Homo sapiens: one gene and its partners. The protein of the gene in region 3 purifies or fractionates together with the protein of the main gene of each other region. This does not show direct contact. Each region holds a gene or a part of one and is shown on either strand. Other genes may lie near its edges.

Region 1 (3,500 bases), on a different chromosome or scaffold from region 3:
ACACTTGGATGTTTATGGTGAGGGTGGGACTAAGAAATGGAACAGAAGCAGAGCTAAATCGCTTTGATTGGCTGTTCATCGAAGGGGCGGGGAAGACTTAACAACTGCTAGCTGCTTTGATTGGCTGCTTTGCTTAAGCACACAGTGCAGCAAAAATAATCACCTGTCAGTTATTGGAAGTTGGAGTGAAAAGTATAATAACCGTAATTGACAGCCTGTCGTGAAGGAGGCGGGGCTTAGTTCCTAGCCTGCTGACTGGGCAGGGAGGTAGGTTCTACTCAGGAGATGTTACTGCTGGGCGTGGCTTGCGGGGGCTCGGAAGTGATCGGAGCCACTGGGTCTAGTTTGGGGAAACCCGGGGGTGGGTACAATCCCATGCTGGGGGTCAGGGCCTGCAGATGCGCCAGGGCCCGAGTTCCGTTGAAGGTCACCTCACAGCCTGACTTGGCTAGGAGCCAGTTCTCCACCTCCGACCGGAGCCACCTGGAGGTCTCTGCAAGGGGAGAGGCAGGTGTTCTGAGGTCACACTGAGATCGGGGAAGATTCGAGGGAGCAGCAAGGAGGGGCGTAGGGCAAAGAACAGGAAGGGCCTGGGTTTGGGAGAAGCCTAGGAGTGATCTTGAGGCTTGGAGGGGAGCGGAACAAGGCCCAGGAGGGTCGAGAGGGCCAGAAGGCCCAGCTCTGGGGCTTTCGTCTGGGGACCAGTCAGGGGCTCTTGGGCAGGGAAGGTGGGGGCTCCTGTAGGCAAGGGGACCACCTGGAGCCCACACAGGGAGCGCGCAGGATCTCTTGTAGGGAGAGTGTCAGCTCAGGTAGAGGAAAGAATGACAGGAGGGGGCCGTGCCATGGAGCCAAGACTCCCAACCAGGCTGAGGTTAAGAAAGGGCTGTCACATCAGGCACCAAGATCGGAGTCTGGATTCGGAGGTCCTGTCTGCTGAGGGCCGGGGTCTCTTCGCAAACCCGTCAGGTTCACCCGTGGGAACTGGGGGTGGGGACGCATCTCGCTGGGGCGGGGCCTCGCGGGGGTGTGGCCCCTGGGGGCAGGGTCCCAGGGCCACGTCCTACCTTCGGGCGAGCCTTGAGTGCCCCCTGGCCGCCGGGCCAGGAAGCTGTGAGCCAGCAGCGCCTCCTTGGTGTGCTCGTCCTGCGCGCGCAGGGCCAGGGCGCTGAGCAGCTCCGAGTTGTTGGACGTACTGCGATAGTACAGCATGTGCGCCAGCTCCAACGCCTGCGCGCTGCGCCGCTGCCCGAACATCTGCAGGCGGGACAGCGCCCCGTGGGCTCAGTTCGGGGTGCGCCCCCACCCATACACAGCCCCCGGGGTCACCCCCGCTGGCACGGCCCACGCCGCTTACTCCCCTGAGGAGGCGGGGAGGTCCTACCCAGACCTCTTCAGTACGGGTCCCCAGAGCTCAGTCGAGGGATCTATTTGGGGATTTTTGGGGTCTGTCTTTTCTTTTTCTTTCTTTTTCTCTCTTTCTTTCTTTCTTTCTTTCTTTCTTTCTTTCTTTCTTTCTTTCTTTCTTTCTTTCTTTCTTTTTCTTTCTTTCTTTCGTTCTTTCTTTCTTTTCTTTCTTTCTCTTTCTTTCTTTTCTTTTCTTTCTTTCTTTTTCTTCCTTCCTTCCTTTCTTTCTTTTCTTTCCTTTTTTTTTTTTTTTCGACAGGGTCTCGCCCTGTAGCCCAGTCTGGAGTTCAGTGGCTATTCACAGGCAAACTCATAACGCACTGAAGCTTTGAACTCCCGGGCTCAAGCGATCCTCCCGCCTTGGCCTCCTAAGTAGCTGGGACTACAGGTGTGCGCCACCAAGCCCGATATTTTTTGTAGAGACGGGATTCTCCCTGTGTTGACCAGGCTGGTCTCAAACTCCCAGCCTGGAGTGATCCTCGCTCCTCAGCCTCCCATAGTGCTGGGGTTACAGGCGTGACCCAAGGCACCGGCTGGGGATCTGTATTTTTAACACACGTGCCCTCATTCCAGTGGCTCCAAGACCACCAGCCCCATCTGGCCTACAGTTTTCAGCAACCACTGCACTGGTTTGCTCATCTGAGCCATGTATTAATGGATTTACCCAAAGGTTTGCAGATGATAGGAGTTTTAGCTTTGAAAGATTTTGTTACAATACATCCTTATGTTTTAGAGACATAATAAAGTATTTCCAAATAAGTCTAGGTAGGATTTACTTCAAAATCATCCAATAGTAGGACAGTGGAGGTCTTCAGGGGAAATCTGATTAACTATTGCTAATTGTTGATGCTAGGTGCTGGCTAGTGGAGTTTATCATACTATCCTATTTCTGTGTTTGTTTGAACTTTTCTATAATGAAGGAAAAAATGGTTTAAAATATTAAACTGTAGGCCAAGTGCAGTGGCTCAGGCCTGTAATCCCAACGCTGAGAGGCCAAGGTGGGTGGATCACCTGAGCCCAGGAGTTCAAGACCAGCTTGGGCAACATGGCAAAAGCTTCATCTCTACAAAAAATTAAAATTAAAAAACAATAGCAGGCTGGGCTCAGTGGCTCACGCCTGTAATCCCAGCACTTTGGGAGGCCAAGGCAGGTGAATCACCTGAGGTTGGAAGTTCGAGACCAGCCTGACCAACATGGAGAAACCCGTCTCTACTAAAAATACAAAATTAGCCGGGCATGGTGGCTCATGCCTGTAATCCCAGCTACCCGGGAGGCTGAGGCAGGAGAATCGCTTGAACCTGGGAAGCAGAGGTTGCAGTGAGCCGAGATCATGCCATTGCACTCCAGCCTGGGCAACAAGAATGAAACTCTGCCTCAAAAAATAATAATAATAATAATTAGCTGGGTGTGATGGTGAGCACCTGTAGTCCCAGCTACTCATGAGGCTGAAGCAGGAGAATCACCTGAACCCAGGAGGCTGAGGCTACAGTGAGCCATGATCATACCACTGCACTCCAGGCTGGGCAACAGAGTGAGACCCTGTCTCAAAAAAAGAAAAAAGTTAAATTGTAAAGAGAAGAGGAGAGGGGAAGGATGTTGGGGGGAAGAACAGGTCTGGGCCCAGCTGTCTACTGGCTGCCCACTTCCCCACCGTTAGTCTCTTTGCTTGGACCCCTCTTCTCATCCTTGATATTGGTAAGGAGAAATGAGGGCATCAGTGCCCTCTGGGCTCCCACTGAAAAACTGTGCCCAGGCCAGATGCAGTGGCTGACACCTGTAATCCCTGCACTTTGGGAGGATGAGGAGGGCAGATCACTTGAGGTTAGGAGTTCGAGACCAACCTGGGCAACATGGTGAAACCCCATCTCTACTAAAAATACAAAAATTAGACCTGGCACGGTGGTTCATGCCTGTAATTCTAGCACTTTGGGAGGCCGAGACGGGCAGATCACTTGAGGTCAGGAGTTCGAAACCAGCCTGGCCAACATGGTGAAACCTTGTCTCTACTAAAAATACAAAAAAAAAAAATTAGTCAGGTATGGTGACAGGCACCTGTAATCCCAGCTACTTGGGAGGCTGAGGCAGGAGAGTCG
Region 2 (3,500 bases), on a different chromosome or scaffold from region 3:
TTAGTAGAGACGGGGTTTCACCGTGTTAGCCAGGATGGTCTCGATCTCCTGACCCTGTGATCCGCCCGCCTCGGCCTCCCAAAGTGCTGGGATTACAGGCGTGAGCCACCGCACCTGGCCCTGTCTTTTTTTTTTTTGAGACATAGTCTCACTCTGTTGCCCAGGCTGGAGTGCAGTGGCACGATCTTGGCTCACTGCAACCTCTGCCTTCTGGGTTCAAGCGATTCTCCTGCCTCAACCTCCCGAGTAGCTGGGGCTACAGGTGCGTGCCACCATACCCGGCTAATTTTTGTATTTTTAGTAGAGACGAGGTTTCACCATGTTGGCCAGGCTGGTCTCGAACTCCTGACCTCAGGTGATCCGCCTGCCTTGGCCTCCCAAAGTGCTAGGATTACAGGCGTGAGCCACTGTGCTCGGCCAAGGGAGCATAATCTTTGAGCTTAATTCCATTCAGTATTTATCAAATGCCCGATTCACATCCCCTTATTTACTTCACATTTTTTAAAAATGAAGATTTGGAAATTATTTGTATTAAAAGTAATATAAGTAATATAATTCTGTTCCTTAAGATGGAATTTGCACTTAAGATATACCACCTCGACAGTCAATGTACCTACCCATAGGAGAAAATCCGAGTGGCTTTCCACCTACTCATCAGGGCAGCAAAAAGTCCCATGACTAAAGCAGAGCAGTCAAAAAGCATGTGGAATCCATCCGAGATCAGGCCCAGACTATTGGTCAGCACGCCATAGAATAATTCCACAAAGGTAAAAAGCTAAAAATGTCACCAAAAAAAAAGGGAGGAGTATGTTGGGCACTGTTTCAATTAGGAGGATTTTAACCCTTAATTATCCAAATTTACTTGAAGATCTGCTATAATTGTTTAGTTATTTAACTGCCACTTACATTAGAAACCCTATTTCACACAAATTGTAAAAACTAAGATAAACCCATTTTACAAACTATTAAATTGTAAAAAACTAAGATAAATCCATTTTAGAAACTATTTAAAAATGGTTTTGTTTATATGTCTATAAAAATAATAAACTAGGTTATAAAATGTTAGCAATAGGTGATTTATAACACTGATTGCTAATAGTGAGATCCTGTAAGTTATTAGAACTCTTTAAATGCTACTATATTTACTGATTTGAAGGAACATACTAAATCAATGCTTCTAAAATGCCTCACAAATTGTTTGCTTAAGTGGCTGGGCACGGTGGCACATGCCTTAAGGATTGCCTAAGGAATCTGAATATGATCTCGTAATCTTGCTATTATACTTAGAAAAAATTTAAATTTTAGCTCATCTTATTATCAGAAATTTGGGAAGTACTAAACTTATACCAGAACTGTCAAAATTAAAATATTATGCTTTTAGGATATGTCAATTAACATTTAAAAATCTTACCAGATTCAAGCACAAGAAGTAAAAGATCTGCCTAGAGTCACTCTCCTCAAGAATTTGTTTTAGTGATTCCTTAATAAACCTAGGGATCGATTGAGAGCTATGCTGAAAAGCATCACCCATGAAGTTATAAAGAGGTGTTCCTTCAGGAGAATATCCAATAAGGGTACCTTTTTGTCCTCTCTTAGAGGGAGATGATAAGATATTGGCAGCTACAAAGAGAAAAAACAATATTGTTTAAATTTTCGAAGTTTAAGCTACCAAAACCAACACAGTAACTGTCGGCACTAAATGCAAGCACTGAAGAATTTCCCAAAATAAGTAAATGATGTGACCATCAAAATCCATAAATAGAAATTTGTTAAAATAAAAAAAAGGGGGGAATGCTTACACAAAATGAAGAATATAGCACTCACTACCACTCCTCCAGACAGGACGTGTTCAGTGCTCTCCTGGTGTGCTGCTTTGTTCATAGCCCGAAGCTGGTCTGTTATTGGATGTGTCCAAAAATTTCCAAAAAGGAGAGCACTAATAAAAATGGGAAAGGATCCATAACGAGCACATTTGGAAACTTCCATTTTGACTGAACAAATGGAATCCACGTAGAAATCCAGGATCATGACAAAAAAGATAACCGTTGCAAAAGGCATAATGAGAGAAAACCAAGACTCCACTTTACTCTAGAAATTAAAAAAAAGAATTGTCAAGACTATACATGTATAAAGTTCACATCTTACAAGATGTTTCTGTTAATCTTTTAAAAAAATAAAAATCGCATGATTCAATATGATTCATAATATGCCAACATATAAAAGCTATAAGATATTGGTACATTTTCTCAGTATTCTCCAAAGTTTTAAAAAACAAAAGCACTATTGTGTAATCATTCGATGAACACTAGGCGACACACAATCTTTAAGCCTAACACATGGTTAATTGCTCCTTCTTCAAATGATTCCTTTGGGCCATAGCAATGTGAGGGATATGTAAATGTAATAGCATTTGATTTGTATTTTCTATAAACAATAAAATTAACTCCAAATTTTTTTTAAAAAACTACAAAGAAAAAGCAAAGACAATTTAAGCCACTTTCAACCTCAAATTAAAATATAATTTATTGAATACAGTGAACTAAAAATTTAATAGCAATTCATTTTACTAGCAATTTAATACCAATAAATTCTTGCTCTTATCTTACCTCAGTTGTCACAGAAAGAACAATGACCCATGGGCACAAGAGAAGCACAGAAACAAGATGAGATAAAGCTTGAAGACGTTTAGCTCCACCAACGTCGACAGAGAGCTTTCTGGAAGCTGTATGAAAACCAACTTTACAACACAAAGCCAGTACTAGCAATAATACTCCACCCTGTGAGTAAAATTAGATAAGTCTCATTAGAAACACACACAGTTCAACAGTCAGTCGTTAAATACATGATCTTTTTTTTTTTTTTTTTTTTTTTTTTTTTTCCCCAGAGACAGGGTCTTGCTCTGCCACCCAGGCTGAAGTATAGTGGCATGATCACAGCTCACTGCAGCCTCAAACTCCTGTGATCAAAGAGATCCTCCTGTCTCAGCCTCCCAAGTAGCCGGGACTACTGGCACACACCACCACACCATGCTAACATAATATTTAAGGAAATGGAACTAGTATATTTTTCCCATATACTCAATTACGTAACTACTTAAATGGCCGGCAATGTTATAACTTACTGATAATTATTTTATTTTATTTTTTTTGAGACAGAGTTTCGCTTTTGTTGCCCAGGCTGGAGTGCAATAGCGCGACCTTGGCTCACTGCAACCTCGGCCTCCCGGGTTCAAGTGATTCTCCTGCCTCAGCCTCCAGAGGAGCTGGGATTACAGGCATGTGCCACCATGCCTGGCTAATTTTGTATTTTTAGTAGAGATGGGGTTTTTCTATGTCAGTCAGGCTGGTCTTGAACTCCCGACCTCAGGTGATCCACCTGCCTTGGCCCCCAAAGTGCTGGGATTTCAGGCGTGAGCCACTGGGCCCAGCTGATAATTTATTTTAAATGTACCTTTATAGTTATAGTTGCTACAACTTTTCAGAATCTTTTGATCCTGTTAG
Region 3 (3,500 bases):
CTCCAGGAAGCAAGGCTCACAGAGTTGCAGACCCTCAACTGCAGGTGACTTCCAGCCTGGCCCTCCCTCTCGGGGCCCCAGCTTCCTGGCTAGCACCAACAGCCTTGGGCTGGTGAGCAGGAGTGCGCATGGTGGAGCCAGATGGGCCAGGTTCACATCACAAGCAGCACGCTGCTGCTTCCTGGCTCTGTACCTTAGCTTTCTCATCTATAAAATGGGGGCAGAAACAAAACCTACTGTGTTTGATTGTTGGGTCAAATGGATTAACAGATGCAGCAGAAGCCTGCCTGGCACCCAGGAAGGGCCAAGTATACATTTGCTGTTATTACCGTATTCATGGTTTTAATTCTGAGGCATGCGGGACCAGGCAAAAGGTCACCGAGAAGAGGTGCAGAGACCTCTAGGGAAGCCACCAGCCCAGCAGGTTTCACAAAGTGCCTGCTCAGCATCTGTGGTGCTTATCGGCCTGGTATATCCATCCCCTTCCTCTCCCTTCTCACCCCCACTTCGGTGGTTCCAGGTGAGGCTGAGTCCACCGCTCCTGGCTTCAGGGATGGGCCTGGGACGCAGCACTGGCCAGTGGTGTGTGCCATTCCCCTGGCCTCAGGGCTAGTTCAGGGAAGGGCATAGGCCCCAAGGGAGCCTTGTGAGAGAGACCCAGGATGTCAGGTGGGGCTGCTGGGAAAGGCAGACGGACAGCATGCAAGCCTGGCACCATGGACACCACCCTGCTGCCACAAGGGCAGATGGCGAGAGAGCAGGGCCATCGGGGAGATCCCAGGCTGAGTGGGAGATGGAGATGGTGCCCCAGCAGCACTGCTGTGCCCCCAAATCCTGCTGTGCCTGAGGCCCAGGAACTGCCCAGTTTCTCAGTCAAAAACTGGCTTCTGTGAGTCTCAGTTGGGTCTTCTGACACATGCCCAGATCCATATATACTCTGTCTTTTGTGCCATGAGAAATTGTGTCAGCAGGGCAGGCAGTAAAAGCAACAAACTACCACACGCCTACTGTATGCCAGGCTCCCACTGGGCTGCAGCTATGCAGACGACTTCATAGGTGCTCACATGAACACCATAGCTAAAGCAGATCAACATCTGTTATGCAGAAGGGCACTGGGGCACAGAGAGACCAAGCCACTGGCCCCAGGTCACACAGCAGCATGGCTGGGGTTCAGAGCTGGACTTCCTGAGTCCACTCTTAACACTGCCTCCTGAACTCTTTAGGACAAAGTCCCCAAAAGTTGATGGGCTGGGCCCTGTTATATGTTCCTGGACATTTAGCCCTGGCTCTTTCTCCCTGCCTGCACTCCCCCTTACCCCACAAAAGGACATCTGCCTAGCATACAGTAGGTGTTTAATATCTGTTGAATAAATACACAAATGAATAAATGGTGAGAGAAGCAGTGGGAGAGAAGCAAAGAAAGCAGGCCTCAGTTCCCAGTCCTGTCTACCACCATCTTGTAGGTGTGAGGGACATCAGGCCACTACAACCTCCAGGCTTCCCCAGCCCCTTGTCTGTCTCTCTGCCTGCCCACAGCCCACTCCTCTGACTGGGAAGTTCTGGGCTAGACCACAAGGAGGGGACCAGGGAGCCACTCAGCTCTCATGTGGTGGTATCTAAGGGCCACAGAGAAGGGAGGACTCCAGTCAGGCAGGCCCTGCAGACAGGGGAAGGGCGCCCTGAAGGAAGGCAGCTGGACAGCCCACACCCGAAGCCCACACCAGGACAGCCCGCACCGGAAGCCTACACCTGGAGAGCCCACACCCGAAGCCCACACCTGGACAGCCCACACCTGAAGCCCACACCTGGCACCTATACTGGGACAGCCCACACCTGGAGCCTATACCAGGAGAGCCCACATTTGGAGCTGCCTTCTCAACCACAGCCCTGACACCTCTCCCCAGGCAACACGTGCCAGGACCACCAAGTGGTGACAATGCAGGCTCTCCCAGCAAGTAAGATGTCTTCTCCAAAGAGGTTTCACAGAATGGACAGATGGGGGACGAATGGATGGAGGATGCAGTGGGCATTTTCCCCACCCAGCATCCATTCCCCTCCCCTCTAGTACCAGCTCCCCAATTCTGTTGTGGGCTCCCTCAGTCCATATGGTCCAGCTGAGCTGATGCTGCCCTCCCAGCTTCACAGTGCCCCTTTCCTTGCTAGCCACAGTGCTTGGCTCAGGGATGAGGATGGGATCCTAGGTGGGCCAGTCAGAGGAAATCCCAGGTCTACACTGGCACTATCAGCAAACAGGCACTGTTTGCCTGAGTTGTAGAGGCAGGATGTTAGCTCAAAGTTGCTCCTGGCCATCTTTGACACCATATGAGGGGAACTCATCTGAGATAAGTCCCAAAGAGATCAGAGATGCAGAAACAGATCCTAACGATATCATTTAACTGCCTGGATCCAGCCATACCTGAAGCTTATTTTCATTATAGAAGCAGTTAATTCCCTTTTTGTTTAACCCAGTTGGAGTTGGCTTTTCTGTCAACTGCAGTGAACTCACCAGGATGTAGAAGGTGATAAAAATGGGGCTGGAGGTGATGCGGATCTTCGCCCGAGCAGATGGAAGCTTCCAGAGCAGGAAGATGAGGAAGAGCACATTGGGGATGAGCAGCAAGAGGTCCCAGTACCGGACCCTGGCGGATGGGCACAGGAGCTGGCTCACTGGCGAGGCCACATATGCACCCCCTCTCCAAGACACAATCTGCCCCACCCTCACCACCCCCCTACACCAGGAAAAGCCACTGACACTCAGCGAGCCTGCCCAGCGTTGTGACTGCCTCACCTGGAGGTGCCAATGTCTTCGTAGAGCAGCAGCAGGCAGCGATGAGGCACACTGATGTTTGGTGCCAGGGGTGGGGGTAGCGCTGTGCTCCCATTGGCCCAAGTCACCTCCTCCAGGGTGTCCATCCCGCCAGCAGCCAGCCCTGGGGGAGTGAGAGCCGCCCAGTGAGCTGTGTGGCCTGGGCCACTGTCCTCCTTCCCCTGGACCTGGGACTCCCAGGGGAAAATCAGAGGGGCTGCACAGAGCACCCCTGTAAACCACCCTCCCCACCCACTGCAGCTCAGTGTGGGGCTCCACACAGGTCACGACCCAATCCCCCAGGCAGGGGCCCAGTCCCCCATCTCAGGCTCTATCTCACGACCTGCAAATAGTCTAACAAAGCCACCCCCTCAGCTAAGCATCTCCATGTGCAAGGCACAGCCACTTGGCTCCTTTCAGTCCTGAGGGCCCATGAGAGCAGCGTGGGTAAGAGCATAGGCTCTGGGTTCACAGCCCAGCCCTGCCCCTTCCTTCCTGTCCTCTCCGTGCCTGTGTCCCCCCACCATGGAATGGGTGTAACAAGTGAGGCTGTGGTGATGCCGAGTGCCTCAAACAAGGCACACACGTGAGGAGTTCTTGGTAGCGGTCAGCCATGGTTCTGACCTGCCACACCATGCAGAACTCAGAGGCCACTGACTTGTGTGAGGCCACAGCGCTGCTGAGGGCCAGAGCT
Region 4 (3,500 bases), about 67 Mb from region 3:
TTGAGGTCAGGAGTTAGAGACTGGCCTGGCCAACATGGTGAAACCCCGATTCTACTAAAAATATAAAAATTAGCAGGGCATGATGGTGCACACCTGTAATCCCAGCTACTCAGGAGGCTGAGGCAGGAGAATCGCTTGAACTCGGGAGGCGGAGGTTGCAGTGAGCTGAGATCGTGCCACTGCACTCCAGCCTGGGTGACAGAGACAGACTCTGTCTCAAAAAAAAAAAAAAAAAGAAAAAAAGAAATTTCTATTTTTCCCTTTGTAACTAGCACCTTGTGAAAAGATACTTTGAGACTGTGAAAATCCTGCTCCTCATCAAACTTTCACTAGTTTTATCATCTACTAAAGATAAGTGGTTCTCAACTGGAGGATTTTGCACCCCAAAGGAGCATCTGGCAATGTCTGGAGATATTTTTTGTTCTAATCTAGGGGACTACGGGAAAATAGGCATAAAGGACATTGTTGACACAAATGACAAAACCTGAATATAGGTTTTGCACCAGATATTATATCAATGTTAAATTTCCTGATCTTTACAACTGTATTTAGTTACATAAAAGAATGGTTTTGCTTTTAGAAAATATATACTAAAATTGTCAGAGGCAAAAGAGCATAATGACTCAAAACTTATTTTCAAATATTTCAGGGAAAAAAATAGAGACAGAACAATTAAAAAATTGGCGCAAGATATAAACAACTGGTAATAAAATAACATATTTACAAGGAATCTGGAGAGGTGTGAGCTATGTTACAATTGTTGATGTAAATTTACAAAAATTTAATAAGTCACATCAGAATTTCATACACTTTAAAAATCAATAACAAAGCAAAATACTCACTTGTAAATACCACTACCAAAATGATTGCCAGATCAATGAAGAGAAACTGGAAGTCTCCTAGGTTACTTAAGATCTACAGAAGTAATTTTAAAAACATTATTAGTTTTTGGGAATTATTTTTATAGCGTCCCCAGGTTTTATTAATAGTTTGGATTTTCCCTATAATGACAACTTAAAAATGACACTCGGACCTGCTTAAAAATTGAAATATAAGTGTCTCTGAAACTAAATATAACATATATTTATAAATATTTGATTTAGTATATTAGTATAAAAGGCATCTCCTTAAAATTCGTTCAATAGGCTGGGCGCGGTGACTCACACCTGTAATCCCAGCACTTTGGGAGGCCGAGGCGGGCAGATCACTAGGTCAAGAGATCGAGACCACCCTGGCCAACATGGTTTTTTTGGCAAAAAGAAAACACAAACATTTACTCAAAATATTCAACGTTGTAAATTAGTATCTTCATCTAATACCATCCCTTCTGATACTTTCTACAAACGGTCAAATGGGATAGTGTCACCATGAGTCTTTAGGATGTCAGAACACTTTGATTATAAAATCTGATAGGGTACCTGTGGCCATCGCTGTTTATACTTTTTCTCCAAATGCAAACCATTCTCCAAATTCAACAAACCACTGTTGAAACATCTTTTCTCATTTTAACTTTTTCAATTTGCTATTCAAACTACAGTAAATTGAAGGTAAATTTATAGGTACTACTCACAGAAACAATTACTAATGGATGCATTCAAAATCAAACACATACGCTCAACATCTTAATTTACGGTGCACATTAAGTGTTATCTCTGCACACAATGTTAATACTCACAGAATACAGCAGAGTAACACTGAAGTACTGGATAATGCTGTACAATGCCATGAATTTAAACACACAGAAGGAAGTTATTAAAGCAGCACGGCCTTCCCTGTGAAAAGAAATCAAATGTCGGCATATGAATAGAAGCATTTTAAACTCCTTTTCCAAACCACAATTTTATCTTGACAGATGAACATCAACATTCAACGGCTACAACAAAGTGCTTATCCACCAAAAGAACTAAACCAAATGAGGAGTAGCAATCAATCTGTTACTAATAAGTTACAGCTCAAATGTGCTAATCTGCTAATATTAAACAAATTCATGTTACTTTTTATGATAATTTTCTCTTCTGTATTATCAGAGACAGAGAAAAAGGGATGAGAAAAATTTTAATTTGTACTACCTGATAAGGTTTGGCACACAGGAAATACTAGGAGTCTTAGAGGTAAAGGGAGATGCCACTGAAGCTTCGAGCTCCGATAAGGAAATGCCTCCGTGTGCCCTCTTCAAAGCCTAATAATTTTAAGAAAACTGGTTAAGTTTTGTGAATATGATTTAGGCTAGAGTAAGAACTATAAAACTAAATCACAAAAACTATACTTACACCACAATCATTTGCGCCATCACCACACATCCCAACAAAATAACTAAGAAACAAAACAATGTTAAGATTTTAATTAATTTCTTAAACTACAAAACATTTAACTTATTAAGACTTTTCTATTACAGTATTATAAAGAGCTAACACACCAAGATTCCCCCAGTGGAACTATGAATCTTTTCACTATAATGAACACAGGTGTGCTGCTTTGCAAACAGCACCAGACCACAAGTGAAATGAGCTAGGTTATTGTCCTATTTCTGTCACATTATCGGCAAATCATTTTGGTGTCTCAATTTCCTCATCTTTAGAGCAAAGCGCTTGTGCCTACAGTCTTTAGTATGGCTACTTTTAACGTTATCAGTAAAAATTTATCCCTTAATAACCTGAAACATAACTGTTTACTAAAATGATTAGCCACTTCTATCAAGATAGAGCACCTGAAAGAATGAAGTCATAGAGAAAAAACTGTGGATATTGTACTTTAGCTAAATAAAAAGCACATGAGACTCTTTTAAAGCGGCACTTAAAGTTCTGAACTATCTTATAGATCACAATTATATATATAAATATGAAATATTAGTATAAGAAACATATAAAAATTATTTTTCTGATGCTGAAATGAAACCATCATTCATCAAAAACCAAAACCAAAAAAGACACCAATACTTACTCAACATTTTGCAATGCTTCTATCAACTGTGTCTTCTGATCAGGTGCCATACGGGCAAACACGGTGCCATGCAACATCAACTGGAAACAATAATACAAATTTTTTTAAAATACTGTTGCGATGCATTCATGTGAGCACACACATACACCCAAATTACTTACCTTAGGAACAAGGTCTTGAAAATGCTCCAGTATCACTGAGAATGATTTTCCATTCATTGCAAAATGATAACGAGTCATTTGAAGATCCTCTAAGCTATCATGGACCAATTTAACCGGAATAGCCTGTGTATATGAGACATTGGGAACAATATTTAGGCAACCAAACCAAGTAAAACAATTCTATTTTAAACATATTTGTTCTAAAACTGAATTCTTTCATTTGATATGTTCCACAACATGATGAAAGCCGGACATTTATTCAAAGTAAAAAGAAACTCAATTAAATATCAGCTTCAATTTGAAATGATGCATGAACTGAGTATGATGGACCACCTGCATCATTTACCACTAGTTACCTGAAGAATACGATAAACATCTGGAATTCTTGTACTTTAAAAC
Region 5 (3,500 bases), on a different chromosome or scaffold from region 3:
AAAATACCAAACTTAAGAACAATTTGATTCTAACTCACTAGATAACATTAGACTAACCACTTTACCTTTCTGGACCTTAGCTTCCTCATCAGTAAAATTATGGGTGTTGGATGGCATAAAAACTTAAATTTCTAAATTCCTTCACAATTTTCAAAACACTGTCACAGGTATTTCATTTCACTCCACTGAGCAGGGACTTTGTTTTATTCACTGCTGTATCCCCAGCATCTGGTTGGTACAAAGTATGCCCAAAATATTAGTTGAATAAGATGAATTTTGATCCTGACAATTATCCTGAGAGGAACACAGAACAGGGCAGTTATTATTACACTTATTTTACATATGAGAAAAACCAAGGTTCAGAGTTTAAAGACACTTGCTCACAGTCCCATAGCTAGAGGTGGAGCTAGAATGCAAACTCAAGTTTTCAGATTACTAGTTCAAATCTCTTCCCAGGTCTAAAATGTGTTACACATTTTTATATATTTTTCAATAGTCAGGCACAAGAATAATGAATTCTTCCTATTCTCACCCTTTCAAAGAAAAAAAAAGTCATCAGGATAGTGTTGCTATAGAAAGCAATAAAAAATATTTAGAAGAGTTATCTGAAAGAATACCTAACACTCAATAATGGTGCATATGAAATAAAAGAGATTAAATTCAAATTCTGACTTTCTTTGATTATACCAATTATATGTTCTGTGTTCCACAGTGAGTCTGCATCTGTAATTCTGGCTGGCTACTTTGTAAATTCTTGCTCCTAATCACGAGGGATGAGGAGTACAAATCTATCTCTGTAACAATTATTGTTCAAATCATAAAACTTGTGCCAGGCTCCCCAATGAGGTTGGGAAACACATCCAATGCCCTTCCTCTAGCCAACTCCAAATCTAAAGCTTTATAATCAATGGAGATAGAGGAAAGGGCCTGAGAGGGCAGCATGGCTGGAAATACCTAGCAGGGCAATCTTTGCGTGTGATGGTAGCAACATATTTTAATGGAATAAAAAAAAAAAATCTACAAACTCATCCAAACATAAAATCTTTCTTTCAAAAATAAATAATTTCTAGAACACAAGTATTCCCTTTCACATAACGTTGCCCATTAAAAGGCTTTCAAAAAGTTAGACATCAAGGATGGAGGGGAAAAAAAGCCTTCAAAAATAAAAATGAAAGTAAACATAATTTAAACAGGTGTGAAATAGCCTCCCATCAAAAAAAATCAAGCAGTTTAAGTACAAGAATAGAAGTCAAAACACTTTCATCATATGGGAAGCAGTATATAGCTGGTTTGTAAAGTAAGAATTTTAGTATATCTGACAAAAAAAGTTTGTTAAAACAAACTCACCAAAATATACTTCTTTTCTGAAAAATATAAACTTGAATATTTTCCACTGACTTATGTTCCTTTGGTCCCTTCTCGTCCAAGAGGACTTCCAATAGATATGTGTCATAATTAGGAGAAGGGTTACAGCAAAACTATGTGGAGAAGAGCAGTTACACTGAAACTAATCTATTTTCATAGCACTCACATAAAACAGAGGGTCTAGGGAAGGGGGAGGGGGGAAGTAGCAATAAGTGGGGTAACAGATTTGAAAAGTCACCTGATTTGGACCCTAAAGAAAAAACTACCAAACAGACTTAGAAAGCAGGGCTTAATCAAAATAACATTCTGTAAAAACCTAAAATCTGGGGTAATTTAAAGGTTTTAAGAGCTCTAGTTGTAAAATCTTGGAGTTATCCCACAGTAATAATCTGCTGTTCTACTTACCTTTTAATAAACAATTCCTCCCCTTAAAAGTTGTTTTCCTTACTGGTACAAACCATACATCTAAATTTTTCTGCATAAATACAATGTCGTGTCCTTACCTAGTAGCAAACTGAATGAGTGCGTTTTGAAGAGTCTGCCTAATTTCAAGAAGAAAAGATTCATCATCGCTTAGTGTATAATACCAATACTGGACATAATCCCTCAAGGAAAACTGGATAACCTATAACAAAAATATTGGAAAAAAAATTACAACATTTTAGGATTTAAAAAGTTACAGTGGTAAACTAAAAAAGTATGCTGTATCTACCAATTTATATTTACTCTCTACGTATTAATTTATGGTGGTAAATACCTGCCCTCATTACAAAAACATCAACATACTAAAAACCATTTCAAACATTTTTAAATTATTCTGGTATCCCAACTTACCTACTGCCTAGATTTAAAAAAAAAAATAAAATAAAACACTATCTATGGCCAAGTCCCACATAAATCCAGGTAAAGACAGGGTTTGCAGAAAAAAAAGAAACTTTCCATGCTATAATCTAATAAATAATATCAATCAGTTTAATGGAATGAGATGTAAAATAATAGAGACTATAATTCCACAAAAAAAGTTTTTTTAAAGATTATATCATCAGATCCATTGCAGTCTAATTATAAAAATGATACAGGAGTTCACTTATTTCTACTAATACCTTTGATACTGCCAACAGTATTCAGACAATAAATAGTACATAATACAACTCAATGTATAATTTTTACAAATCAGATAAACTAAATATTAGTAATAATAATAAATGTTAAAATTCTAAAGTACACATTTTTATAATCATATAATCAAACATCAATGAAAAATATTTCAGGGGGCATAGTTTTTTTACCTATCTCTAATTTTTTAATGTTTTTGCATCGGATATTTCTTTTCCATTTTTTAAAAGGTAACAAGTAGGAAAAAAAGTCTGATTTACCACACCACTAAGCTTGTTCATCAACGAAAGAGTAACACTTTAACTGTAAAATTTTAAGAAACACTATCAAATGTCAATAACAACTTTTTTTCTAAATCCAAATTCAATCGAAAGGCTTTTACATAAAGTAAACCACCTCATTAGAAGTGAGTTAATAAATAAGGAAGCATCTTCAAGTATAAAATTCAAGGATAACATTAAGAAATTCCAGGATATTATTTAAAGAGCAAAAAGTATTTCCTGGTATCTTCAAAAGAAATATACCTAGAACACAATATATAGAATTCAAATACCACACGCTGAAACTCACTTGCTGGAGAGGTTCATCAATTATATTGGCACCCGTCAATCTTCTATCAATCTTAATAGTCCTGGCTTCCCGTTTCATTTCTTCTAAGCACTTAAAGGAAATCAAAATATCTTACTGAGTAGTTTTCTGATGTAAAATCTCTCCAGTTTAATTCCAGTTGAATACTCAATGTAACATCCCTTCATTATCCTCAAGTAAATAAATAACCTTATTTGAGGTGCTACTCTATAAGCCAAACACTATTTCTCAAGTTAACAAAATTAGACACTCCCAAAAAAATGATTATCCTCAAAAATTTAATCAGCAAAAATTATTTAGAATGTGGGAAAACTGCAAATGTACAGGTATGCTGCTGCCATATTTCAATGAAACTCTACAACTATAAAATTAGTGTTTCATGTGAGTCAAACTGTCTTTACTGGACACTCTCCCTCTTGCCCCTCCCCTTT
Region 6 (3,500 bases), on a different chromosome or scaffold from region 3:
TGATGGAGCATAGAATCTAAGTTGGATAAGGAAGCAAATGAGGATAACGGAGTTGAAAAATAGTGAAAATATGGCAGAGTTTCAATTGGAGTGCCCATTGGTACTGCTTATTATTGTTTCATTGAAGCTGGCTTTACTTAAAAGTCATCAAATATTTACTGAATGTTTATATTGTACTTCTATAAAAAGGTGAGCAAAATAGAGACAGTCACTTCCCTCAGAGAGTTTATCATTTAGACAACAATGAGAAGCATGAAACACAGTAACTAGAAGGTTTACATTGGTGGCCTAAAAGGATGGCAATTACATCTTTTTATTTACAGTCTCAAAACATATTTTTCTTGCCCTACATTAAAAATGAGAAAACATGGGCCAGGCACGGTGGTTCACGCCTGTAATCCCAGCACTTTGGGAGGCCGAGGTGGGCGGATCACCTGAGGTCGGGAGTTCGAGATCAGCCTGACCAACATGGTGAAACCCCATCTCTACTAAAAATACAAAAAATTAGCCGGGCGTGGTGGCCCATGCCTGTAATCCCAGCTACTTGGGAGGCTGAGGCAGGAGAATCGCTTGAACCCGGGAGGCAGAGGTTGCGGTGAGCCAAGATCATGCCATTGCACTCCAGCTTAGGCAACAAGAGTGTAACTTCATCTCAAAAAAAAAAAAATAAATAAAAGAGAAAACATGGCTTTAGACTGGATCCATTTAATTTTTTGAAAACTTAATAACAAAAAGCAACCACAAAACCATTTTTCTTTAAAACACTTCAGAATTAGAATCAAAACTTTAACAGAAGCTTCCTACCAAAGTAAAACAACTTAACACCAAACAACTGCAATTTTACACTAAAAAAATACTTTTCCAACATAGAAAAATGAAAACAGTGTGGCAGGATCAGGAGTGATTTCTATTGGCCTTAAAAATTATCTTTCTTCAATGTTATAATGTTGTTTGTGCAATAATTAAAATTGGGGTTAAGGAATAACTTACCCTTCGGTCAGCTGCTACAAGTCTAAATTCCCGTAACAACTTGCCAAAAAAGGATCTTTGTGGTTTTCGAAAGAGATGAATTGTCCCCTTTCAAACAAACATATACAAATCAGCATTTAGATATTTAATCATCTTCAGAGTTCCTATGATATGATATAGTGGTTCCTATGATATAAATAACCAATATTTATTAAGTACTCAATATACATCAAGCACTTATTCTAGACACTTTATGTGTATTTATGGATTTAATATTCACAATAAACCTATGTGGTGGAGACAACTTTTAGTAAGTCATCCAAAGTCACAGAGCTAGTAAATGGCTGAGCAGAAATTCAAACCCAGGCTTTTTAGCTCCAGACCACACTCTTTATTTTTAAATGGATAAGGCAACTTGAACTGAAAAAGAAATAGTTTGCCAAATAGCTCTACTGGAAATTTCTACTGAAAATTCACCTAATTAAAGCTATATATGTGGTTGTGCTTGGGGCTCATGCCTGTAATGCCAGCACTTTGGGAGGCCGAGGCAGAGGGATAACTTGAGGCCAGGAGTTTGAGACCAGCCTGGCCAACATGGCAAAACCCTGTCTCTACTAAAAATATAGAAATGAACTGGGTGTGGTGGTGCACACCTGTAATACCAGCTACTCAGGAGGCTGAGGCGTGAGAATCTCTTGAGCCTGGGAGGTGGAGTTTGCAGTGAGTCAAGATTGTGCCACTGCACTCTGGCCTCGGTGACAGAGTGAGACTCTGTCTCAAAAAGAAAGTAAGTTCAGGCAACTATTATAGTAAAACCCCTGAGATTCTCTCTTAGGCATTCAGTCAAAGTATCTGACATCCTGGCTAGTCTCCCTGGCCCCTGCTAGTGTATAGTTAGTTTGGGGATAGTAAAGATAGGGCTCACCAATGAGAGAGGAGACCAAGTGGCAACTAGAGGGGATTAACCACCCAAGTTTAGGAAATCACATGGGAAAGCCTTAGCAGAACAGAGAGTTCAAACACATATGAGAAATTAACTTATGAGAAAAGCAGTATCCAATATCACTGGGAGAAAATATAAGCCAGTCAATAAATGGTATTTTGATCAAGGTAATGTTTCACCCTTACCGTTACTCCTTACTCTGTTGTTATTTTTAAAAATAAAATACAGATTTATAGAGTACTTGACTGAAGAAAGTCTAGATGTATTATTTTATAATCTGGGAGTTGGGGGAAGCCTTTCTTAATAGGGCATAAAACCCAAGAAGCTCTAAAGGAAAAAAATTGATTGATTTTACTATATAATTTCATGGGCGAATGTAATACCCTTAAGGGGGAAAAAAACTTTAAGAAGGTCAAACTGAAAAAAAACTATAATTCACAACAGACAATAGGCCAATTTTCTCTATACACAATGAGCTTCCACAAACTATTTTTAAAAAGATGAATAACCCAGTTTTAAAAGTTACACATTTATAAAGCTGGCCAAATCAGTACCTGCTCATTATTCACATTTGCTTTTGCAACTTTGTATTGTTAATGTGAAATCATGATTTCTCTTGATACTTTAAAAATAAAAATGGTATGCCTCTCCCTATACACAGTCACATCCATCTCTTGAACCTCAGTTCCAGCTGCTTTTGAGGAGGACAGTCTGATTTTAAATATAGGCTACACGGCAAACAGGATATTCACTCTGTCGCAGCCCCATTCTGCGGTGAAGGAGTAGCTGGGACTACAGGTACCCACCACCACGCCCGGCTAATTTTTTTTTACCTTTAGTAGAGACGGGGTTTCACCGTGTTAGCCAGGATGGTCTTGATCTCCTGACCTCGTGATCCGCCCGCCTTGGCCTCCCAAAGTGCTGGGATTACAGGCGTGAGCCACCGCACCCAGCCAATAAATATATCTTTTTCTTGGCTGGCCATGGTGGCTCATGCCTGTAATTCCACCACTTTGGGTGACTGAGTCAGGAGGATCAGTTGAGCCCAGGAGTTCAAGACCAGCCTAGGAAATATACTGAGACCCTGTCTCTACAAAAAAATTGAAAAGAAAAAAATTAGCCAGGCATAGTGGTACATGCCTGTAGTCCCAGCTACTCAGGACACCAAGGTGGAAGGATCGCATGAGCCCGGGAAGTCAAGCAGTGAGCCAGGTTCACACTTTACTCAAGCCTGGGCAACAGAGCGAGACCCCATCTCGAAATAAATAAATAAATACATAAATAAATGTACATATGTATAAATATTATATATATGTGTATGTACATATGTATATATATTCTTTTCTTAAAGAATTATGTGTGAGTTATTTTGGTTCCAAAGATTTAAAAAATTCTCCTTAATACTGTTATTTTGGACATCTTCTGTTTAACCCTAGCCAACTTTAAGTTTCAGGTTAAGAGAATCAACAAGGTTTCTAAGAGGCAGAAAGCCACTTCTGATGCCATCCTGACAATGAAAATAAAACAAAAATCCTAATGTCATATCACTCTTCCCAAAATTATATTGGCTCGCCATTGCTATCAGAAT
Region 7 (3,500 bases), on a different chromosome or scaffold from region 3:
CAAAAACTACCTGGGTGTGGTGGCACACACCTGTAGTCTGAGCTATTCAGGAGGCTGAGGCAGGAGAATTGCTTGAAGCCAGGAGGTGGAAGTTGCAATGAGCCAAGATCACACCACTGCACTCTAGCTTGGGCAACAGAGTGAGACACCATCTCAAAAAAAAGAAAGCTCTTGAATGTGTTATCTAAACAAAGTCCATTTACAGGGCCATCTGTGGCCTGTGGTCTAGTAGTGTGAGACTCATATGGAAACCCCCTCTTCATTGTGCATGCAGAGACGCTGAGGTCCTGAGAAGTCAGTCACTGCTGACCCAAAGCCATCCTTCAAGTGAAGGCAGAGCTGGGACGGGAGCCAGGCTCTGTGTGTCTATCCCTCTGCCTCCAGGGTGAAAGACATGCTTTTCTCCCATTAGGTGGACCCAGGCCCAACGCCGATCCCCCACAACAGCTCATCACGATTTGACTGCAACTCTGTCTCTACGGCTGTGCGTACTCATCTCACCTGGTCCTTGCCTGACCCAGGGCCCCTGGGTCTATAGACCCCACTCCCAGCCCTTCACTACCCAGCTGGGACTGTCATGATTAAAACAGTTGAGACCTGGGCTGGGCGCACTGGCTCACACTTGTAATCCCAGCACTTTGGGAGACCAAGGTGGGAGGATCACTTGAGCCTAGGAGTTTGAGACCAGCCTGGGCAGTATAGTGAGACCCCCATCTTAAAGAAAAAAATTAAAAAATATATATATATAAAATAATTGAGACCTTAATATAATTTCTGAGGCTGAGGCGGATGGATCACTTGAGACCAGGAGTTCAAGACCAGCCTGGCCAACATGGTGAAACCCCATCTGTACTAAAAATACAAAAATTAGCCAGGCATGGTGGTGCACGCCTGTAATCCCAGCTACTCAGGAGGCTGAGGCAGGAGAATCACTTGAACCCAGGAGGTGGAGGTTGTAGTGAGCCAAGATCGAGCCACTACACTCCAGCCTGGGTGGCAGAATGAGACTCACTCTCAAAATATATATATATATAGTTTCTGAGTCCTTTCTGTCTGCACCATATATTAGCTCATTTAAGCCACACAGCAGTCCTGTGAGCTAGGTGCTATGATATTCCCATTTTCCAGATGAGGAAACTGAAGCTCAGAGAGTATAAACTCTTGACACACAACTAAGGAGTGGGAGAGCTGAGACTTGAACCCAGGCGTGCCTGACTCCAGAGCCTGTGTTTGTAGCAGGCCTGTTTGGCCAGCTCCTGCCTCTCCTTGGCCACGTGGTTGGGAGGGTTGTCCCCTGGAAGCTCTGCGGTCTCACTCTATTCTCCTGTCCCAGGCTGTGCTCCTGGCGGACATCCTCCCCACACTCGTCATCAAATTGTTGGCTCCTCTTGGCCTTCACCTGCTGCCCTACAGGTCTGGGTGAGGGTAGTGGGAGGCAGGGTGGGCAGGAGCTGAGAAAGGGGAGGCTGGGATGGCTGAGATGCTGAGAGTAGAGACCGACCTTCCCCCTCCCTTCCCTTCTCACCCCCTCAGCCCCCGGGTTCTCGTCAGTGGGATTTGTGCTGCTGGAAGCTTCGTCCTGGTTGCCTTTTCTCATTCTGTGGGGACCAGCCTGTGTGGTGAGTGTGTGGTTCTGTGTCAGATGGGGAGCCCCGAGGAACCACATCAGAGCATTTGTGGGAAGAGTCTCCCCAGCCTCCCAGAGGAAAGGGATTCATTCTGTCACCCTTAGAAGCCTGCTAGGGCTATCAGCAGTAGGCGATGGGAGACTGGGACAATTTGGAGGGGTAGGCAGTGGAGGAGATGGGAGAAAATGGATGAATTAGATGGAGATTGAGGTGAACAAAGTCAAGACTCTGTGATGGACCAGGCACAGTGACTCATGCCTATAATCCCAGCACTTTGGAAAGCCAAGGCAGGCAGATCACCTGAGGTCAGGAGTTCGAAACCAGCCTGGCCAACATGGAGAAACCCCGTCTCTACCAAAAATACAAAAATTAGCTGGGTGTGGTGGCAGGAGCCTGTAATCCCAGCTACTCGGGAGGCTGAGGCAGGAGAATCTCTTGAACCTGGGAGGCAGAGGTTGCAGTGAGCCGAGATCACGCCACTGTACTCCAGCCTGGGTGACAGGGCGAGACTCCGTCTCCAAAAAGAAAAGAAAAGAAAAAGACTGATGAAGGGGCAGAGACATCAAGGGTGCATGTCTGCCCCTGGTCTGATAACTGGGTGGATGGAGGTGCCACTCTCCATGAAGGGACACGCAGGGGAGTGGGGCTCTGCTTCAGACCTGGAACCTGGCCTATGCATGGGATCTATTGGAGCCTCTATGAGCTGATACTGAGGAGGCCATGGCCAGACACATTAGAGGCCTGGGCAGTGTGGCAAGGTGTGGTGTGACCATCCCAGTGCTTGTCCTCCCCCCAGGTGTGGTCTTCGCTAGCATCTCATCAGGCCTTGGGGAGGTCACCTTCCTCTCCCTCACTGCCTTCTACCCCAGGTAAGCAGGTGGAGCAGGGAGTGTGGGGAGAGGCTGTCCCATGGTCAGCCTAGGTCCTCCTGAATGTTCCTGTGTTCTCCTTCCCAGGGCCGTGATCTCCTGGTGGTCCTCAGGGACTGGGGGAGCTGGGCTGCTGGGGGCCCTGTCCTACCTGGGCCTCACCCAGGCCGGCCTCTCCCCTCAGCAGACCCTGCTGTCCATGCTGGGTATCCCTGCCCTGCTGCTGGCCAGGTGAGCTGCCCTGAGCCGGGAGGGAGAGGGGTCCAAGGAGAGAAAACTTGGCCATGGCTGGGTGTGGTGGCTCACGCCTGTAATCCCAGCACTTTGGGAGGCCAAGGAGGGCAGATCGCCTAAGGTCAGGAAACCAGCCTGGCCAACATGGTGAAACCCCGTCTCTACTAAAAATACAACAATTAGCCAGGTGTGGTGGCGGGTGCCTGTAGTCCCAACTACTCAGGAGGCTAAGGCAGGAGAATCGCTTGAACCCCGGAGGCAGTGGTGGCAGTGAGCCGAGATCGTGCCATTGCACTCCAGCCCGGGCGACAGAGTTAGACTCTGTCTCAGGAAGAAAAAAAAAAAAAGAAAGAAAAGAAAACTTGATTATGATTGCAATCTTCAAGTCCCTACCTTGCTGTGAAGGGAGGCGGAATCTGGACTCTGATAGCCCCAGGTGTGAGTCCTGGAGCTGCCACTTTTTAGCTTTGTAGCGTTGAACAAGTTACTCCACCTCTCTGAACCCTCAGTTTCCCCATATCTCAAATGGCAGTTGTTCTTGCTTTCCTTGGAGGTGATGAGGGTAATGCATTCAGCACAGTGTGGTTCCCAAGGTGATTAGAAGTAGGATGAGGGTGGACTTTATTTGATTAGTTCCTTTTTTTTTTTTTTTTTTTTTTAATCAGTGTTGACCAGGTTGGCCTCGAATGTGTAGCCTTGCCTGCCTGAGTGCCAGGGCAACAGGCCTGAACCATGGCGACTCCCTTTTTTTTTTTTTTTTTTTTTTTTT

What was found.
Region 1: the proteins of TPRA1 (region 3) and TMEM143 purify together in Homo sapiens (affinity purification with mass spectrometry; 2 studies listed by BioGRID and IntAct, with this or other methods). This does not show direct contact.
Region 2: the proteins of TPRA1 (region 3) and SLC30A5 purify together in Homo sapiens (affinity purification with mass spectrometry; 2 studies listed by BioGRID and IntAct, with this or other methods). This does not show direct contact.
Region 4: the proteins of TPRA1 (region 3) and ATP13A3 purify together in Homo sapiens (affinity purification with mass spectrometry; 2 studies listed by BioGRID and IntAct, with this or other methods). This does not show direct contact.
Region 5: the proteins of TPRA1 (region 3) and SNX13 purify together in Homo sapiens (affinity purification with mass spectrometry; 2 studies listed by BioGRID and IntAct, with this or other methods). This does not show direct contact.
Region 6: the proteins of TPRA1 (region 3) and SLC30A6 purify together in Homo sapiens (affinity purification with mass spectrometry; 2 studies listed by BioGRID and IntAct, with this or other methods). This does not show direct contact.
Region 7: the proteins of TPRA1 (region 3) and CLN3 purify together in Homo sapiens (affinity purification with mass spectrometry; one large-scale study listed by BioGRID and IntAct). This does not show direct contact.

The regions. Positions count from the first base shown.
Region 1 is NC_000019.10:48,332,941-48,336,440, forward strand, and holds part of TMEM143 (transmembrane protein 143), read right to left. Parts: intron 1,258-3,500; coding exon 1,068-1,257; intron 494-1,067; coding exon 279-493; 3' UTR 1-278.
Region 2 is NC_000005.10:69,114,514-69,118,013, reverse strand, and holds part of SLC30A5 (proton-coupled zinc antiporter SLC30A5), read right to left. Parts: intron 2,778-3,500; coding exon 2,607-2,777; intron 2,089-2,606; coding exon 1,800-2,088; intron 1,621-1,799; coding exon 1,412-1,620; intron 776-1,411; coding exon 618-775; intron 1-617. UniProt on the Homo sapiens protein: Together with SLC30A6 forms a functional proton-coupled zinc ion antiporter mediating zinc entry into the lumen of organelles along the secretory pathway.
Region 3 is NC_000003.12:127,577,234-127,580,733, forward strand, and holds part of TPRA1 (transmembrane protein adipocyte-associated 1), read right to left. Parts: intron 2,931-3,500; coding exon of another isoform or gene 2,914-2,930; coding exon 2,789-2,913; intron 2,640-2,788; coding exon 2,507-2,639; intron 1-2,506.
Region 4 is NC_000003.12:194,428,003-194,431,502, forward strand, and holds part of ATP13A3 (polyamine-transporting ATPase 13A3), read right to left. Parts: intron 3,225-3,500; coding exon 3,102-3,224; intron 3,021-3,101; coding exon 2,941-3,020; intron 2,314-2,940; coding exon 2,271-2,313; intron 2,180-2,270; coding exon 2,070-2,179; intron 1,773-2,069; coding exon 1,676-1,772; intron 916-1,675; coding exon 843-915; intron 1-842. UniProt on the Homo sapiens protein: ATP-driven pump involved in endocytosis-dependent polyamine transport. Uses ATP as an energy source to transfer polyamine precursor putrescine from the endosomal compartment to the cytosol.
Region 5 is NC_000007.14:17,888,495-17,891,994, forward strand, and holds part of SNX13 (sorting nexin-13), read right to left. Parts: intron 3,142-3,500; coding exon 3,052-3,141; intron 1,991-3,051; coding exon 1,869-1,990; intron 295-1,868; exon of another isoform or gene 66-294; intron 1-65. UniProt on the Homo sapiens protein: May be involved in several stages of intracellular trafficking. May play a role in endosome homeostasis. Acts as a GAP for Galphas.
Region 6 is NC_000002.12:32,168,864-32,172,363, reverse strand, and holds part of SLC30A6 (zinc transporter 6), read right to left. Parts: intron 1,078-3,500; coding exon 991-1,077; intron 1-990. UniProt on the Homo sapiens protein: Has probably no intrinsic transporter activity but together with SLC30A5 forms a functional zinc ion:proton antiporter heterodimer, mediating zinc entry into the lumen of organelles along the secretory pathway.
Region 7 is NC_000016.10:28,485,575-28,489,074, reverse strand, and holds part of CLN3 (battenin), read left to right. Parts: intron 1-412; coding exon 413-484; intron 485-1,333; coding exon 1,334-1,413; intron 1,414-1,533; coding exon 1,534-1,619; intron 1,620-2,424; coding exon 2,425-2,497; intron 2,498-2,584; coding exon 2,585-2,728; intron 2,729-3,500.